Homo sapiens: one gene and its partner. The protein of the gene in region 1 purifies or fractionates together with the protein of each later gene. This does not show direct contact. Each region holds a gene or a part of one and is shown on either strand. Other genes may lie near its edges.

Region 1 (6,298 bases):
GGAGAAACATACACATGCACACAGTAATAATAATAAATAACACTTACTTAGTATTTACCATGGGTCAGGTGCTCTTCAAGGGACTTTACATATTTCAACTCATTTAATCCTCACGGTATGGTAGATGCCATTACCTGTCTCCATTTTACAGATAAGAGAACACTGAGGCATACATAATTTAAAGGTTCTGCCCAGGATATGAAGCCAGTAAGTGGCAAAGCTGGGATTTGAACTCAGCAACTTTAGCTTCAATGTTAGTGTTCTTTACCACTGCATGATGTTACTCTACAATGAAAATAATCCCTTATGATTTAAAACTCTTCAGTGACTTTCAAATTATTCCTAAGGACTAGAATCTTTAAATTCGGCGTGGAATATTCTTCCCTTCTACCTTGTGCTGCTAAGTACTTTTAGTCTTTTATATGTTTCCTTAATCATTATTTCTTTAGGGAATCCTTCTCTCAAATCACTATTATTAATTCCTTCGCAGCATGCAGCTGTCTGTTAATATTTATCACATATGAAATTGTACATATTTTTTGTGATTTTCAGTTAATTTGTGTCTCACTGTAGAATAAACCATAAACAATATTATTTCATCTGTGTGTAATACAGTCATATATATGGTACTCAAGAAATATTTAAAGAAGGAGGGAAGGTAGAAAATTCTTAGAGTTGAAAAGTTCTTGGAGAAACATACCATGACAATGTTATTTCCACATAGGACTCCATTTTATACTCTGCCTCTTGAATTACCACTTATTCACTGTTTGAAGTCCAGAGGTGGGTAACTCTACCTCAAGAAAAGTTACTTCCATTGCTGGGTGACTTGGAACAATATCAGAAAATTCTTTCTTAACTAGAGCCAAAATATGACTTCTTATCAATTTTAACCATATGTTCTACTCTTCATTTTGGGGCTTCCTGGCATATGTTTTGTGCCCTTTTCAAATGGCATGTTTTCAAATATTTAAAGTTATGTTCCCCTTCACATATTTTTTCTCAGTCTAATGATATCTGATTACTTCTATTTTTATGACATAATTTTTATAATTTTATTTATGTGCTTTGAGGTCATTTAAAACACTTTTCTTTTTGTTAATGTCAATTGATTTGATTTATTACTTTCAGCCAGCATTTTAAAAACTATGTTCAAAGTTTGTTGATCGGTTCTCCTTTCTCAATCTCAAATAAGTTTTGGTGTAAAAATAAGTAGTAAGTTTTGTATAAGGTTATAGTAAGGATTGGTTCTTCTTCACCCTCAAATAAATTTGGTGTAAAAACGTAGTTGCACATTATATTATTTTCTTGGAAATTTACATTATAAAATAGCATATTACGTTTCTGAGAGGCTTTGAAGTAAACAATTGGACATTTTTAACCTAGTGTTTTACAAATATATATAATCATTTTTCTGTGGAAATATGCCAGATTTGTAGGATTTTAAAGAATACTGTTGGGAAAATGTATATAAAGGCATCCATTGATCTTTATGGAATACAGATTGCTTATAACATATGTTTGTAAAGTCATAAGGCTAATGTAAAGTACACGGTACTTTGTTACTTAATGAAATTCTGTTTTTCTTAATTCACAAAAATCAGAAATATGTCAAGTGATTAGAATAAAAACTTTTTTATGTTTTCTGGAAGAAAAGGAAAATGAAGGTAGGAGTAAACATATTTGAATATATTTATGCCAGAAAAATGAAAATAATTTTTACTATAACACATTTTTATTAAAACATGTTCTTTAATGAAGCTTGCTAATTTCTTTGAAATATTCTGTTTTGTTAGAAAGCATTCAATATTTTTATTTAGAAAATCCAAAAAACACAATCAAATATAAAGAACAATTTGCAGTTTAAGTGGATTTCAAATGTTAAAACACTAAGATTCCACAAGAAATGCATTATAATAAACATAAAATTTAGAACTTATAAGAATGCAGTGGACTATATCTAAAAACAACAGCTACAAGAAATGGTAATGAACTAGAAGTGACTGCTGTTTCATTATTTGATATTAAATAACAAGAATTCTTTAGTGATGAAGTATTTGATTCATTCCATACCCATTCTCAAGCTAAATATCAAACTTGTACCACCAACAGCTACTTAGCAATCTGCAATTGTTTTATTATGATTACAATTAAGAAATATTTTATTTTCTCATTTTCTTCAGGTCGTTATCCTCCTGTTTGATTATTACATTTATACTGTAAATTACGGTATCTGCATAAGTAATTTTAAACATACACAAATGTGTCCTTTTTATTGTATAAGAATGTAATTGTTTTCTTTAGTGTTAATAAGCTATGGAAGAGACCAAAATAAAACTATCTTTGAGTTGATAAACTATCTTAACTCTGTGTCTGTTTTATTAATTAAAAGAAAAGCAAATTAATGCAGGCTGTGATGCATGTAACTGGCAAAAGCATCTTTGAATAGAAAAAATACACTGCACAAATGAAAATGGTGGCCGAGAGCAATGGGGAATATGACTTGTGTCCTAAACCTATTAATGGTAACCACATTTCATGTCAGAAACAGCTCATTAAACTAATTTTAGATTTGGTGAGAATGTGTTTAAATAATGACAGCCTGCAGAAGTCTGAAGCAGGTCATTAAAGCCATTGGAATTGGTGGTTTGATTTCATTTCCATCCAGACGGAGGTAGCGAAGATGAGGTCCATAACTGAAGGAATCTCGTTCTGCAGGCAGCATGGATGGGCTGGGACATATTACAGAGACATTCACACCTACAGTGACAAAGAGAATAGATGAATGAATTGGAACACAAGAGAAACTAACAGTGGGAAGACCAAAAAACTAATGCCATGGTCCTATGGAGGGCTTAGTGGCCTAATATATGAAAATAGTGGTTATACAAAACATTTGTGTCAGTGAGAAATTGTGCCTATCTGTTTCCCCCAAACAAAAGTTCAGCAAACTTAACAGTCATCTCAGTCCATGTTCTGCTACTTAGTATAGAGCACTAGTAAGGAAATACTGTTAAGATCTGTGATAGAAACAAATGTGTATAAGACGTCACTTGTTTTCTAAATTTGCAGGTAAGATAAAGCACATTTAGATTGCTGTAGGTAGGATTTAGGGCATCAGAGGTGGAGACAACAGTTCAGATTTGGGACTGAAAGAATGGGTAAGTACAAGAGTAGATGGATGGATGGATGGATGGATCCTGGATGGGTAAGTAGAAAATCAATCTAATATAAAAGAAAATGCTTGAAAATTACCTTAAAAGATGCAAAATAGTGTGCATAACATGATTTTAAAAGTACAATTAACATAACTTTACATAAGCAATACAGAAAACAATCTTGAATCTTCATCTTCAAATTTATTTAATTGGAAACTAAAATTTTGCTAAGAATTGAATGACAAAGAACTCAAGCCAGAAAATATCCCAGCAGCCTTTTCATATGGTTAGGATGGGAGTAATTGTGCACCTGCCTTGGATCAAAGCCCTTGGCACCAATGACTATGCTGAGATTTAGGAACATACAGGAGAGAAGGCCAGTTAAACTAGCAAAATTCAGGGTACTCTGTAACAGCTGATTTCAACCATGAATCCATATATTACCTTTAAATTCCTTTTCAAAACCATTCCAAACAAGAGATCTTCCCTGATTAGACCCACTGAACTTGGGCAATGCCCCTCCTCTGTGGCCTATTGTTTTATATAGATTCATATTGTAGTGAATAATTTTATGTTTCCAGCAAGGTTGCTTTGCTTTGAATTTATGCCATTTTGTAAACTGAATTTAATAAAAATAATGACTCATTTGAATAGCAGTTTAGTTGTTATAAAATCAGGTTCTCTTTTTTTACATACATCCAAGTATCACCTGATCATCTCACAGGCTTTATCAGCCAATATTATTATTCTACATACCTGGGCATTTTGTGGGAATTCTGGTTCAGAGAAATAAGGAAATGCACACAACTTATTTCAGAAAGTAAGTGGCAGAGCTGAGACCTGGCCGATTCTTTCTAATTCTACAATGTGTCTCTTGCCCAAAAGAATATGTCCCTTTCGATGTGCAATCCCCTTATCCTCATCAAGCTCATGTCCCATAATCAATGTATGTCTGAATAAATGAATATAAAAAAGAAGTATTCTAAATTTAATTACATTTTCATAAATTACAGTGTTTCTCAGGGAACACCAGAAAGTAATGTAGTTGAGTAAATAACATTTTTACCTAATCTTAAATCCCTGAAAGTTTTCAGAAAAATAAATATTTCCATCATATTGCTTAAGACAAGTTCACTGTCTCATAAATTTTGATGTCTTTTCATAGAGGAGATATGTTTCTTAGAGACCACTTTGTTACAACTAGAGTAGATGATGTGGCTAGAAGAAGCAAGTACTTAAACAGTTTTGACACAGTGTGATATTATTATATCAATATTCTCTCCAGGGAAACTCTTATATTTATTTTCTTAAATATTGAAATGACAAAATTTGATATCTACATTAAAAAGTAAATAACTAGATTTCTCTTTGTTGCTTTTCTACTGATAGAATTTTTTAAAAATTTGTATTCATGACAATGAAGGAAAGTATTGTTATTATACTGTATGAGTGAAAAAAACACTTCAGACTCAGGTTCTGGCTATTGCATTTACCCTTTGTCCTTGGGCAAATATCCTCCCCTAGCTGATCTTCAGTTTCTCTCTTTCAGAAATTCCTAATAATATCACACAAGTTTCTCGCAAGGATTAAATAGTAGTTCTCAAATCGTGAGCCAGCAACATCAATACTATTAATACCTGGGGAGTAAACTGTGAGGCCCAACCTCTGACCCAGCAAGTCAGAAATTCTGGGGGTAGGAAACAGCAACCTGGGTTTATAAGATCTCCAGGTGATTCTGATGCACACTCAGATTTGAGAACGATAGAAAATTAGAAACCTATGAGAAAACACTTTGATAAAACTCTAAAATGTGGGTCTATACTACACACATAATACTCCATAAGCTAAAGTCTTATACTTCTCAACTGTGTTTTAAATACTGCTGCCTCACTCCTAAACACCCTAATTCACAAATGCTCAGGATGAAATGCATAATTTGTAAGCAAGGGCTCTATGTGGAGTCACTTGAAGTTTACTTCCCACATCAATTGTCCGTGGGGCTTTTAAGGAATGTACCTGTAATATACCTGTAGAAGCACAGAACACTCGTCAGGAAAAATTATGTATTTAGGTCAATATTGTTGTTGTTCTATTTGATTCAGCTAAACAGATTCATCTCTTAACATTTTTTTTCTGTTGCATCTTTTGTTTTTGACTACAGGATTAAACAATACATTTCATCACCATGGAAAAATAACCGCTATGATGGCAGGCTGCCATTTAATTCCTGGATTGTAGACTCAAGTACACTGTTATTTAACTCCCCCCACCAAAAAAACAAAAATTCTTAAATAACTGAGCAGTTCCCAGTGGAAAAATAGTCTGTTCCTATAAATGATATGTTTATGTGATTATTTGCTTAAAAAGCTTTAGTGAGTAATACCCAGGCAGCACAACCTTTTGACAAATTATCTTTGTTATTCTCTTACAAACTATCCTGACTGAATATTACTTTTGGAATGCATTTTCTTAGGTTGTCCTGGAGAAATCTCCCCAGAGTTATTTTTAAAGGGTCTACTCTGAGTTTGAAGATGCATAGATAAATGCCAGGCTAGGTATCGTACCCCTGTGGCTGGACCTATTTTTACACCAAGTCCAGCCTAGTCTCATGCATAATTGTGAAGAAGCCAAGTTTGTCTCTAATGTGTCCAACATCTGCTTTCTATAATCACTTCTTCTCTTGATGATGCCTCTGCCTCCAAAAACTTTGAATTCATCTCTCACTCCCTTATGAAAAGCTCTTTTCAGGAAAGGAGAGAGTATTCTACCTGACGATTGCCTGTAAGTCCCAAGGAGTTGCCAGCTACCAGGGAAATTTCTTTCCATTTTAATTAATAAAGCCTTAAACTATAGTAGTGGTTCTCAATGTGTAGTTCCCAGAACATCAACTGGACGGCTGTTAGAGATGAAAATTCTCAAGTCTCACTCCACATCTACTGAATCAGAAATTCTGGGGGTGGAGTCACCAGCCTTTACACACTTGTTTGAGACTCCCACTGTAATTAGCGGAGTTTAATTAGAGACTCCAATTAGGAGGGTTTCAGGCATCAGCTGTCATATAGTGTTTAGGACAAAGATGCCTTCCTAATGCCTCTTAAATCATATTTTCTTTATTACTAGTCATGAGGTTGTTTGTGCCT
Region 2 (8,264 bases), about 26 Mb from region 1:
CACGTGATTATAACACATTGAATAAATAAAAATCCAGGAATCTATGGCAGAGACAAGGGCAGGGGAGGAGAGAGGGAGGGGGAAGGGAGAGGCAGGGAGGAAGAAGGCGGCTCTTGTTCATTGAAGTAGAGAGAATAACAGTGGTGGAAAAATCACCACTCGGCAATTCTCATACAAAGATTTAGGCAAGGATATTCAAAAAGTGCTAAAACCATGATGTTCAAGGTCACTGGGGAACAGGATCTTTACAGGATGCTACAGAGTGACCACGTGGATTTCTTAATTGAAATAGTGAGTCACTATCTTAGCCAAGTGACCAAACTCAGTATCACTCACAGGGGGCCCCTGATGAGACCCAGTGGGAAGCACGGGGCGAGGGATGTGAAGTATCCTCCCCAAGAATTCTTATCCCGATCTAATCAGGACTCAGACTTCACTCCCAGCTGGCAGACATCATACAGTTAAGGAACCAATGAGGCAAATCCAAAATGTTATACAATTTACAAGACAATGGCCAGGCACGGTGGCTCACACCTGTGATCTCAACACTTTGAGAGGCTGAAGCGGGCAGAATGCTTGAGTCCAGGACTTCGAGACCAGCCTGGGCTACATGGTGAAACCCCATTTCTACAAAAACACAAAAAATAGCCAGGTGTGGTGGTGCATGCCTGCAGTCCCAGCTACTTGGGAGGCTGAGATAGGAGGATCAATTGAGCCCAGGAGGTTGAGGCTGCAGTGACTCATGTTTGTACCACTGCACTCCAGCCTGGGTGACAGAGCACCCTGTCTCAAAAAAAAAAAAAAATTTACAAGACAACCAGTCTGGATTCTTCAAAAAGTCAAAGTCATATGAAAAAGGGGGGAAAAAAAATGAAGAATGAGGAACTGTCTTTAATAAGAGAGACTAAAGAGAAAAAAAACAACCAAATGCAGTGAATGAATTCTGGTTGGATACTGATTTTAAGAAACAAGCCAAAAATAGGCATAAAGTTATTTTGTGACAATTGAGAAATTTGAAAACTATTAGATATTATAAAATAATTGTTACTAGGTGTGATAATGTAATTTGGTTATGCAGAGGAATCTCCTTATACTCAGACATAATTAGGTCATGTCTGCAATATTCTTTCAAATGGTGCAGGAAAACAGTAAAATCTCTATAGATAAAGCAAATATGGGAATCATTTACTGTTGAATTGACTAGAGGGTAAATGGGGGTATTTGATGTATTCTTTTAACTGTTCCACGTGCGAGCAAGAATGATGACTTCAAAGAAGATGAACGGAAGTGGGCTGGAGTATGTCAGGCGTGGGAACCGTGCTGGGGCTGTAAGGGGAAGGCCAGATCCCTAGGGCCTGGTAAAGCATTCTGCACTGCCTGCCGATGAGAAACTCCTGATGGTCAGTCAATTCAAGCAGCAAGTGGCCCGGTCCAGGGACACGCTAGGAAGATCCTCTTGCTGTTGCTAAGGAAAATGCCCGGTTGGGGACAGGCCGGGAGGCAGGTGCCAGTTAGGAAGTAGGCAAGCAGAGACCACCAGAATGGAAATGGGAGACACATGAGGAGACAGCAGTGGGTGTGTAGACAGATGTATCGCGAGGGCAAGGGGAGAAGAGCAAGACACGGCCCCCACGTGGTGTCACTAGTGAGATGGGGCAGGCAGGAGCAAGGGGGGTATGGGGGCACAATGAGTTCATGTTTTTTCTTTCTTTACAGAGATAATCGAGTTAAAACAATGGGTTCAGTGAGTCGGGGTAACAATGTTGGAGAGAAGACCCCTGAGAGCCCTCCAAGCACACATGCCCGGGGGCTGTTACAGAGGTGGGCACGGAGCCCAGAGAAGAGCCCAGAGAACACGGCTTTGGGAGTCACCAGCACATCCACAGACACCCCAAGGGGGAAGGAGATGAAGGCCTAGAGGAGAGTCCCCTGGAGAGGGAGGACCCTGAAGACAGCCACGTATCAGGCATGCTGGGGGAGATCTGCCCCTTGGCCCAGGACTCCGAGTCCCTCAGGAAGCGCTTGCTGACACAGCGCTGATGGAGCCGCCGGCAGAAGACGGGAACTCTCATAGTGTAGGAACAGCTTTGAAGTTCTACGTTTTAAATTCAAGAAGCCAATTTGCTAACATTACCCATCATTTAGTTCCATCTCAATTTAACAGATGGTAAAACCAACAAGCAGATATTAATTTTTTCAGTAATGACAATTTTATGACTAAACCTTACATTGCATGTTTACCTAGATATGATTAGAGATCAACTTCTGAAGTGAACATATCACAACCCCTAAAACCAAATACTTAAGACCAACCCTAAACAGTGAATAATGATGCCATGTGGTAAAGCCATAGACACTGGCCCACGGTGTTGTTGAAAAGAAAATGCTCATTTATTCTTGTGAACGCCATTTGTTGTAGGCTATCAAGCGTTTACCAGGTGACTTGTGCTGGCACCAGTGGCCCAGTGAATCAGTCAATAATGTCCAAATCATGTGTTGATTTTTAGAGATTGTTTATATTCGACACAGCTTCAAAAGTTAAATAACATTACCGTTGGTGCCTCCATCTGCCACAGGGAGCACAGAAACCCCTTACACCATCCCCATCACACTGAGACAGGGCAAGCGACCTGCAGTTTCAACAAACATTTATCTTGATGCTGCTGTTCCAGGGGATCCTTTCAGTTTCTGATTAACTGACAATAATCATTATTTTCCAGCCTTTTATTTTAAGATGAGGTCTCACTCTGTCACCCAGACTGGAGTGCAGCAACACAATCAGAGCACACTGTAGCCTTCACTTCCCAGGCTCAAGTGATCCTCCCAACCCAGCTTCCTGAATAGCTGGGACCACAGGTGTACACTACTCTGCCTGGCTAATTTTTAAATTTTTTTGTAGAGATGGGGTCTTGCTGTGTTGTAGCTGGGAACACAGGTGCACATGACTCTGCCTGGTTAATTTTTAAATTGCAGAGATGAGGTCTTGCTGTGTTGCCCAGGCTGGTCTCCAACTCCTGAGCTCAAGCAATCCTCCTGCCTCACCCTCTCGAAGTGCTGGGATTATAGGTGTGAGACACCTCACCTGGCAATCTCCAGCCTTTCAGAAAGTTCTGAGGTTTTTATACATCCCATATTTTGATTATTGGATTTATCAGAACATAATATTGAGTTAGGTCAAAACTCAGACATGAGCAGGTACAGCATGATGGATGAAGAGGAGGCTCTGTCAAGCTGCCTGGCTTCAAATCGTGTTCTCTAAGTTAAAATCTCAATGGCTTCCCTGTGCCTCAGTTTCCTCACCTAGAAAATGATGATGATGATGTTTCTCAAATGGAGTTAATATACATTAGAATGATGTCCGTCACAGAATGGCACTACATTAGCATTCACATTCATTTTTATTAATAAATGTGAATTATTAATTAATCAATGTGAATGCTTTGACAGACATACACTGAATTCATCCTATTAAGTAGAGGTGAAATTCAACAGGAACAAAGAGAAGGGAGACTCACACTGAAGGCATTCTTGTCTCTTACCAGCTTCCACAGGCTCTGTCAGTCTCCACCTCAGCCTTGCCCTGGGCTGGCACCTGCCGGGGCGGCAGTGGCCCAGACGCCTACCCAACCTTACTGTACACTTGCGGGCTCTCAGGTGCTCCCAGGGCCGGCGCAGTGGGCTGCAGTTCCCACAGGTGGCCACACGAGGGCATCTCCGGCGTCAGCCGGCAGCCACAGCCTTGGGAGGCCAGGGAGCACTAGGGGGCCCCCAGGTGTTCATCCGGTTCCCTTCTAGTCTGGGAGGAGCCGAGGGCAGGGTCCAGGAGGCAGGACTTACAGGAATTTGATTGGCATAGACAGTGGCCAATCAGATGTCCGGGCTGTGGGAGCGGAGGCCCTGGGGGAGGGCGGGTATGACTACTGACCCCTCGCCAGGGCGGCACCTGTGCAGACCCAGCCACGTTTAGCTGACTGTGGGCCCGAAGGAGGCCGGCCATGGGGCGTCGGCCGCCTCTGAAGGAACCGATGGCCCACGCCCACAGTACCTACCCGAGGGCTCAAACGTGCGCTGAAAACACGCCCGCGGGGCCACTGGCACAAGCGGAACCCGCCGCTTACCTTGGGCTGCGTATCGACAGGAGCCGTCCTCCACCAGCACGTTATAGAAAGGCTGGTGGTGGCCGTGCGGCAGGCTGTGGACGTTCATGTTCCGGATCCACTCGTGTCCCATCATGCAGGTGGGGTCCCAGCCGTAGATCACACAGTTATAGCCATACCTAGTTAACACAGGAGGAGCAGTCAGTCCCTGCAGACCCGGCCGCAACAACCTCCAGACAACCGCGTGGCTTCTCAGCTCACATCCTCAGTTACCTGCTTTACTCCACGGTGAATCATTTTTCAGGACACCCCTAACCCCTTTTATAAACACCTCTTATTATCAACATAGCACTTTATCTGGAAAAGAATAAACTTTTCAACAAAAAGTGATTAGATGACAACTGGTTACCCAAAAGAAAAAGGTATGGGGACCTGGCCTGACAACAGCACACCAAATTCAATTCTCAGTACAGCAAAGACTCAGGTGTTAAATGCAGAACTTCTAAAATAGAAAGTATCTTCATGACTCAAGATAGGGAAGGTTTGTTAAAACAAGGCACTAAAAATACAGCCGTAAAGGAAAAGACTAACCAATCTGACATCACTAAAACCAAGAGACTAACAAATCCTGATCCAAACATGTAAAAATATGAGACAACTGGGGAAATAGGAACTCTCATTAGATACTGCATGAAGTTAAGGAACTGGGGTTTTCTAGATGTGATAATAAGATGTTAAATATGAAAAGACAGAGAAGGAGAGAGCACCCCTGCCTTTTAGAGGTACATACTGAAATCGCTACAGGTGAAATGGCATCTGGCACTTGCGTCAATTAACCCAGGGAGGAAGGTCTGGAGGGTGCAGGGGACAGTAAGATTCACCCCGTATGGCAGCTGTTGAGGCTGGATGACAGGAACACCACCTGGTTCCTTATAGTCCTTTCTCTCTTATAAATCTTTGCAAATTTCCATTTAAAAGTTTAAAAAAATGCAATAAAGAATGAAAACCACCAGCCAAAAACTGGGAAAAGATATTTGCAACTTATCGTCATGTAGATACTGATACACAGAAGAACAACTACATATCATATTAGGGAGGACTAATAACTCAATAGAAAAAAATACACGAAATGGGCTGGGTGTGGTGGCTCACGCCTGTAATCCTAGTACTTTGGGAGCCTGAGACGGCAGATCACTTGAGGTCAGGAGTTAGTGACGTGCCTGGCCAACATGGTGAAACCCTGTCTTTACTAAAACACAAAAAATTAGCCAGGCGTGGTGGTGTGCGCCTGTAGTCCCAGCTACCTGGGAGGCTGAGGCATGAGAGTCGCTTGAACTGGGAGGCAGAGGTTGCAGGTGAGCTGAGATACAACACTGCACTCCAGCCTGGGCAACAGACCCAGACTGTCTCCAAAGAAAAAAAAAAAAAGAAAAAAAGAAAAGAAAAATGAAATGTTTGAATAGGCGCTTAATAAAAGGAAATTTGGAACTTGGATAGCCAGTAAATATATGAAAAGAACCTTAACGTGTTTAGTAACCCAGGAAACAGAAATTAAAACCACAGTGAAACACTATTTGCCCTTTCTCAGGTAAGTACACTTTTAAAGGTCTGGCAATAGCACCAGGCGAGAATAGGAACTCCAGGCTCCCAGCCTGCTGGTGGGATGTAAACTGCTCCAATCACTTTGGATACAGTTTAATTTTGCCTGGTAAATAGACCAAGTGCCTATCGGATTTGAAGAGACTGAGATTAAGTGACAAGATATAAGAACAATGAGGAAATGAGAGAAAAAACTCGTGTCTTACAAAGTTACTTCCATGTTCTCACACACAGAGAAGGGTCAAACATCTAAAGGCCACTAAAAACACTAGAAGATCTCTCAGGAAAGTAAGCTGCTGCTTAAAAAACACAAAGGTCAAAGACACGGTTCAAAAAGAAAAAAAAAGAGGTTCAGCTTTCTGTCTTCCCCGCGGTGCGCACTCGGGGGATAAGTGATCCAGTCAGCTCCTCCTCCACTGTGTCCTGGGGGCTCACCAGGTGCATGTGTGTCTCTGCAGCCCCTCTGGAACGGACACTGCAGGACAGATGATCCCGGGCACTCACCTCTTATGCTTCATAATGAGCCCGATGGAGTAGCAGACATCTCTGTGCTTCTCATCGGAGCGCAGCTTCACCTCTACGCCCACCTCCTCCTTTTTGCGCTCAATGTGCTCTAGAGTGTGCTGCACCAGGTAGCCCACCGCCCCGTGCTGCCCCGGGTCTAGGGTTTGGATGTGCTGGAGGATGTCAAGCACCTTCAAAACAAGACAGAAAGACTAAAAGATAATATTTTCAGCTAGGCCTTTTCTTTTTTGCGGCGAGGGATTTAGACCTACCTACGTAACCTAACAAAGCAAAGGACCAAAAGGGGTGGCTATGCCCTGATCGAACCGGTCCAGGTCTCTGGACCATCCTCTGATGGACCGCCACCAAATCGGCACTGCAGATGCCCAGGGTTGGGCTCTACTGTAACACTGGCAGCTGGCCCAGGATACCCCAATTCAACCAGTGTCAACCTGAGGAGTTCTTTGGAAACCAGTGTGCTGGGATAAGCGCTGGGGACGCAGGTGAGGGCCCACCACCTAGGGCACTCTGGATGAGGTGGGCTCTAACAGCACCTAGCATGCTTGGTCGGCATGGGAAATGTGAGAATCCACGTTTTTTCAATACACAGGAATGATTTTCACTTGCCACTCACGAATTCAGAGGGGAAAAAAAAATGCTAAATTGCTTTAATCGAGACGAAGAGGATGTCTGACACAACTGCCTCAGTGCTGGAAAAGATGGAAAAGGTCACAGAGTGGGCACCAAAGGGATGCATTCGTTGAGTTTATGAAGCTACACTAGAAGGAGGGAGCCACGTATATCAGAGTTCTAAAATCCTGCTGGTCACTTCAGTGGTCTTAACTCATCATGGTATTTGGTATTCAGCAGGCAGCAGGAGAAACTACATCTATGCAGAGGTTAAACTAGTAGCACAGAGTAGCAGCCCTGTCTGACTCCACTATTACCGCCTCTACTGCACACAGTGCCTCTGTGGAAAAAACTCCACGTTTAAAAAGACACAGACATACAATTATTTCGCACCCATTACGTTTACAGCCCTTAGCATAGAATTTCTGACAAGGTTCTCCTTCCAATTTACTGAGTCCTGGATTACAGCCTGCTTAGTGCGTTACAGCAACCTGGACTCTAGGCCCAGATCGGTCAGACTAGCTGGCGTTTTTACCTCTGAATTCCTTTCTTAGCTTATCAAATCATGAGTAATCACTGTCCTATTTGCTGATGCATTGTGAGCCTGTCAAAGTATTGTGAAAACTCCAGTTTTATGCACCATGTTATTATCTTGCCTTTCAGACTGCGACGTGCTGGACCTCAACATTTACTGAACACTATTCTCTGCTGGTCACTGTGCCAAGTCCATCAGGTTTTTTGTTTCACTTAATCCTTCCCATTTGAAGGTCAGTAATTTCTTGATCTTCAAATTGGGAGGATTAGGTGGAAAAAAAAAAAAAGCTTTTAATCACTGCCACTTCCCGAACAGGACTCAGGCTTAGTGAAGTGACTTTCCCGGGGTCACAGGGTTGTGGAGAGGTGGAGTGAGGCTGTGGCTCTGGGTGTGAAGATCAACTCTTGGTCTCAACCAGTGTCATATCCTAGCAAGAGCAGGAGCATTTTAAATTAACTACTACAAAAAGTTCCAAACACATAAAAATGGACAAAGCAGTATAATCCCAAGTACCCCAAACCCAGTTTTGACAAGAATCAACAGACAGCCAATCCCCCTGTGCCTCTACCTCCAGCCGGGTGCTTTTAATTGTGGGACACTCGCAGATTTACCCTTTACTTTAATAGGAAGCGCCTACTGACAGTGCCTGCATAATGGCTGTCCTTGTGGCCTGAAAGAGTACCAACAAGCCGCTTTTTCTGCCCCTCCACTGTGTTCCACACACACAGCTCCCCTTCTCTCCTAGCAGCCACCTCCCCATCAGATAAGTAAAATGGTCAGAACTTGGCATCGTCAGAGAACAGAGGAAGTCTAGATAAGGTCAAGGATAATTACCCCCACCTTCGCTGGATGTGTGGCTGAGCGCGAAGGGAGAGGGCAGAAATGAAGACATTGTGCCT

The links.
Region 2: the proteins of KERA (region 1) and FBXO21 purify together in Homo sapiens (co-immunoprecipitation; 3 studies listed by BioGRID and IntAct, with this or other methods). This does not show direct contact.

Annotation. Positions count from the first base shown.
Region 1 is NC_000012.12:91,048,759-91,055,056, forward strand, and holds the end of KERA (keratocan precursor), read right to left. Parts: intron 2,761-6,298; coding exon 2,588-2,760; 3' UTR 1,733-2,587; downstream 1-1,732. UniProt on the Homo sapiens protein: May be important in developing and maintaining corneal transparency and for the structure of the stromal matrix.
Region 2 is NC_000012.12:117,151,673-117,159,936, forward strand, and holds part of FBXO21 (F-box only protein 21), read right to left. Parts: intron 6,413-8,264; coding exon of another isoform or gene 6,392-6,412; coding exon 6,201-6,391; intron 4,277-6,200; coding exon 4,119-4,276; intron 1-4,118. UniProt on the Homo sapiens protein: Substrate-recognition component of the SCF (SKP1-CUL1-F-box protein)-type E3 ubiquitin ligase complex.